2 separate regions of the Homo sapiens genome follow, and region 1 is linked to region 2. Evidence: fine-mapped expression QTL. Tissue or cell type: whole blood. Region 2 holds a variant in brackets; the other region holds the start of a gene. All regions are shown on one strand. Distances are between the middles of the regions.

What was found. PIP is the estimated chance that this variant, and not a neighbour inherited with it, causes the effect.
Region 1: it holds the start of TSGA10IP, and the variant in region 2 is the best candidate, but not a certain one, in a credible set for the expression of TSGA10IP in whole blood (INTERVAL, PIP 0.82).

The regions. Positions count from the first base shown.
Region 1 is chr11:65,944,167-65,946,666 of GRCh38, forward strand. It overlaps TSGA10IP (testis specific 10 interacting protein), which reads left to right and starts at 1,314. Exons shown (of 8, transcript NM_152762.3): 1 at 1,314-1,656. The coding sequence starts at 1,510. It overlaps LOC105369350 (a long non-coding RNA gene), which reads right to left and starts at 1,358. Exons shown (of 3, transcript XR_950212.3): 1 at 1,271-1,358.
Region 2 is chr11:65,984,807-65,987,649 of GRCh38, forward strand. No RefSeq gene overlaps it. Among named protein-coding and RNA genes, the nearest start is that of EIF1AD, 16 kb to the right of the region's middle. The variant C/T (reference allele first, on the strand shown) is at 1,463.

The sequences.
Region 1 (2,500 bases), 41 kb before region 2:
GCTCTTAGCCATGATGCTCTGCTGCCTCAAAAGAACGGCCAGCTAGTGTTAGTAATAATAACATTTACCGATGTCATCGTTTGGGGTTTCATGTAGTCCTTGCAACAAACCTATGAGCTGGGCCCGTGATTCCAGTTTTGCAGAGTGGGGAGTTGGTCACAGAGCTAGTGAGACCAGGCCTCCAGCCCAGTTGGTCCGTCTCCAGGGCCTCAGCTCAGCACCACATCCCTGTACTGCAAGCCTCAGTGGTCAGCACCAGGCGTCCCATGGGGACTTAAGATTCCAAGGCTTTTGAGCACTGCTAGAAGTTTGGGGTAAGATCTTTTACTTTTTTTATATTAAAAAAATATATTTTTTTGAGATGGAGTCTCACTCTTTCGCCCAGGCTGGAGTACACTGGTGTGGCCTCGGCTCACTGCAACCTCCACCTCCCGGGTTCAAGAGAACCCGGAGAGGGAGAGCCTCAGCCTCCCGAGTAGCTGGGATTACAGGTGCCCACCACCATGCCCGGCTAATTTTTGTATTTTTAGTAGAGATAGAGTTTCAATCCAGGTGGGAGATGGGGTTTCACCATGTTGGCCAGGCTGGTCTCCAACTCCTGACCTCAGGCAATCCGCCCACCTCGGCCTCCCAAAGTGCTGGAATTACAGCCACTGCCCGGCCTGGGGTAAGCTTTCAATGTTGTAACTCCCTCCAGAACCTCATGGCCTATGAAGATGGCCAGGTGGGCCTGGGCCCAGGCTCTGAATGGCCTGCTGCCTCTCTCCTGGACACAGCATTCAACTTCCTGGCTGGGGCTGGGAGTGCAAAGATTTGTTTATTTGTTTCTTTTTTATTGAGACAGAGTCTCACTCTGTCGCCCTGGCTGGAGTGCAGTGGTGCAATCTGGGGTCGATGCAGCCTCTGCCTCCCGGGTTCAAGTGATTCTCGTGCCTCAGCCTGAGTAGCTGGGATTACAGGCATGCGCCACCAGGCCTGGCTAATCTTTTTTGCATTTTTGGTAGAGATGGGGTTTTGCCATTTTGGCCAGGCTGGTCTTGAACTCTTGACCTCCAGTGATCCACCTGCCTCAGCCCCCCAAAGTGCTGGGATTACAGGTGTGAGCCACCACTCCCAGCCTGGGAGTGCAAGGATTTAAATAAAATCTTGTGAAAGTTCAGTTTGGCTCCTTCAGGGACTCGGCCAGGCCGGGGGGCAGCACAGGAGACAGGCTGACTCCCCTGTACAGATGGATGGGGAAACACAGGCAGAGTAGGGACAGGGGACTTACACCAGGTCACACGGGGAGCCTGTGGATGAGGCAGAGGCAGGACTTGGGCCTGGGTCTCTGCGCTAAATGACTCCTGGGCATCCTGCTGAACTCTCTCCCAGAAGGAGATTGGCCTCACATACCCCACTGACCCCTTCCTAGCATGCTTTTTGCCAGACCCATTGAGACTGGCTGAGGACTGGTTGCCATAGAGATGGCCTGTTAGGCAGTTCTACGGTGCGGATGGGGGATGGGGCAGGATGGGGCAGGACACCGATATGCTAAATACCTACCAACAGTTGGTTAGGACCCCGTCGGTGCGACCAGGGCAGGACGTGCGGCTCCAGGCTCCAGGAACCAGAACGGGGCTGCTCAAGCTGCTGTCGACCGTCTCTCAGGACAAGCAGGTGAGGGAGGCCCAGTGAGGACACTTCCAGCTGCCTAGAGCCAGGTGGGTCAGGGAGGCCTGGGCTGGGGAGGCCCTTGAGAAGCCACAAGACCTGAGCTGAGGTCCAGATGAAACTCAGGGAGGCAGGAGTGGGACAGGGACCACAGGGAGGCCTAAGGGCCTTGGGAGAAGCCGAGGGATGACGCCCAGGAGTGACTCCCAGGGATGATGGGGCCATTCAGGGAACACTGCGGAAGGAGCAGGTTTCAGGAAAGATGAAGACCACCTTGATGAAGACCACCTTGGTTTCTGCCTTGGCTGTAGCAGGTCCAGGGCCCAGTGGGACATTTGGGAGTGCAGTCCAGGGCCCAGAGGTGGCCTAGCGCAATGGTGACAAATCTGGGCTCCACCACTTCCCAGCTGTGTGACCTCAGTTACTCAGCCTCTCTGAGCCTCAGCTTTCTCCTCCACATGATGGAGGTGATAGTGAGTACCGGCCTCCTAGGGTCCTTGGGAAGGTTACGTGTGTTTATGCATGAAAGTCCTGAGCACACAATAGGTGCTCAGCAGGTGGCAGCTGTTGCTATTTTAATATGCAGAACGGAGGTGGTGCTCGGTCGGGTTTTTTTGTTTGTTTGTTTTTTTGAGATGGAGTTTCACTCTTGTTGCCCAGGCTGGAGTGCAATGACACAATCTCGGCTCACTGCAGCCTCCAACTCCTAGGTTCAAGCGATTGTCCTGCCTCAGCCTCCCAAGTAGCTAGGATTACAGGCGCAGGCCACCACACTCGGCTAATTTTTTTTGTATTTTTAGTACAGATGGGGTTTCGCCATGTTGGCCAGGCTGGTCTCGAACTCCTGGCC
Region 2 (2,843 bases):
GATATCTATTTAAAAATTTTTAAATTAACATAATGAAATCTTAAACACATTTAATAGTCTTATTGTTAGTAATAATAATGATGATATTGGCTGGGCATGGTGACTCGTGCATGTAATCACAGCACTTTGGGAGGCCGAGGCAGGAGGATTGCTTGAGGCTAGGAGCTGGAGACCAGCCTGGGCAACATTGCGAGATCCCCATCTCTACAAAAAATTTAAAAATCAGCCAGGCATGGTGGCATGCACCTGCAGTCCCAGCTACTCAGGAGGTTGAGGCAGGAGGAGTTGGAGACTGCAGTGTTCTAGGATCATGCATTGCACTCCAGGCTGGACGACAGAGCAAGACCCTGTCTCAGAAAAAAACCAAAAAATACAAAGAAAAGAAAACTGAAGCTGTGTAACAGGTACAATGGGATTCATTATTCCATTCTATCTACTTTTGAGTATGTTTGAAAATTTCCATTATAGAACTTTGTTTAAAAAGAGAGAACAAGAACATGTTGGCTTAGCAACAGAAAAGCATACATATGTTCAGCTAAAGACATGAACAAGAATGTTCTTAACAGCACTATTTATAACAGCCCCAAACTGGAAACAACCCAAATGTCCATTAACAGAAGAATGAATAAATAGCCGGGCATGGTTCTTAGTGCCTGTAATCCCAGCTACTGGGGAGGCTAAGGATCCCTTGAGGCCAGGAGTTCAAGACCAGCCTGGTGACATAGTGAGACCCACCTCTAAAAATATTTTTTAAATTTAGCTGGGTGTGGTGGCTCATGCCTGTATCTGTAGTCCCAGCTACCCGGGAGGCTGAGGCAAAGGATTGCTTGAGCCTGGGAATTTGAGGCTGCAGTGAGCTATCCTCACACTTGTGAATGGCCACTGCACCCCAGCCTGGGTGACAGAGTGAGACTCTGTCTCTAAAAAAAAAATCAACAAAGGGTAGACATTCATATAACCGAATGAGTAACATGGATGAACCTCATGGACATGAAATTATACATACTGTTTGCTTCCATTTAATACAAAATCTGGAAAAATTCTTTTATTCTATTAGAAGCAGTATAGAAGGCTGGGTGCGGTCACTCATGCCTGTAATTCCAACACTTTTGGAGGCCAAGGTGGGAGGATTGCTTGAAGCCAGGAGTTCTAGAGCAGTCTGGGTAACAAAGCAAGACCCTGTCTCTACAAAAAAATTTTAAAAATTACCTGGGCATGGTGGTGTGTGCCAATAGTCCCAGCTACTCAGGAGGCTGAGGCACAAGAATCACTTTAACCTGGGAGGTGGAGGTTGCAGTGAGCCGAGATGGTGCCATTGCACTCCAGCCTGGGTGACTGAGTGAGGCTCTGTCAAAAAAAAAAGCATCGTTTTAAATAATGACATAAATATAAAAAATGGCCAGCATGGCTGGGCGCAATGTCTCACGCCTGTAATCCCAGCACTTTGGGAGGCTGAGGCGGG[C/T]GGATCCCGAGGTCAGGACATCGAGACCATCCTGGCTAACACAGTGAAAACCCATCCCTACTAAAACTACAAAAAATTAGCCGGGTGTGGTGGCGGGTGCCTGTAGTCCCAGCTACTCGGGAGGCTGAGGCAGGAGAATGCCGTGAACCCGGGAGGTGGAGCTTGCAGTGAGCCGAGATCGCGCCACTGCACTCCAGCCTGGGCGACAGAGCGAGACTCCGTCTCCAAAAGAAAAAAAAAAAAAAAAAAAAGGCCAGCATGAGAATGAGTGAAAGTTCATAAACTCTTCCTATGGTGACTCACATATGGCATAAGGAACTAGCTCACTGGTTTTGCCTTCTCCTTCCTCTCTTCTGTAAGGTTCTTCATTTCCCAGGCCTGTAACTTGCTGTCTTCCCACTACGGTGCCTTCTAATAAAGAGCTTCCAAAACTAAAAACAACGTAAATCTTTGCTGCGGTTATTTTTTGACGCATCAAAAAAGGCACCAAGCCTAGATGTTTTTAAAGCTTCAAAAGTTTATTGACCGGCACCATGGCTCACACCTTTAATCCCAGCACTTTTGGAGGCCAAGGTGGGCGGATCACCTGAGGTCAGGAGTTCAAGACCAGCCTGGCCAACATGGCGAAACCCTGTCTCTACTAAAAATACAAAAATTAGCCGGGAATGGTGGCAGGTACCTGTAATCCTAGTTACTCAGGAGGCTGAGGCAGGAGAATTGCTTGGGGCCTGGGAGGCGGAGGCTACAGTGAACTGAGATGGTGCCATTGTATTCCAGCCTGGGTGACAGAGTGAGACTCCGTCAAAAAAAAAAAAAAAAGGTTATTATCTAAAGGCTTTACCTTTAGATAATAGATCATTCAAATGCTATTTAAACTACTCCAGATCAGAGAAAAAGATGGTAAGCGCTCTTAACATATTTTATGATATTAATAAAATACTGATAGCCAAATCTTCTCATTGTTTCTGAAGTTTGTTTTCTAGAAGTTCCTTCTGTCTGCTGGTGATAAACTCCTATATTCTGTTGGTCTGAATGTCTTCACCATGGTGTAGGGAGGAGACAGCCGTCGTGGCCCCCAGGGCTGTGGTGAGAATCAAAGCTGTCCTGCCTTGGGCATGTCTCCAAAGCCCAAACACACTGGGAAGACGGAGTTGGCCCCACTCAGGGTCTCCACTCAGATCAGGCTGGGTCCCACTTCCCTCTCCCTGAGCCCCGGACACATCGATGCTGTCATTGCATGCTGATTCTCCGAGTCCCTGAGCCCCGTACCCCCCGGCCTTAAGGAGCCTTGCCAGTGTCCTCCCCACCTCGCCCCTGCCCAACAGACACAGCACGCCACCTGCTCTGCCTTGGGTCCCAGGCCTTTCCCTCCTCAGGCACC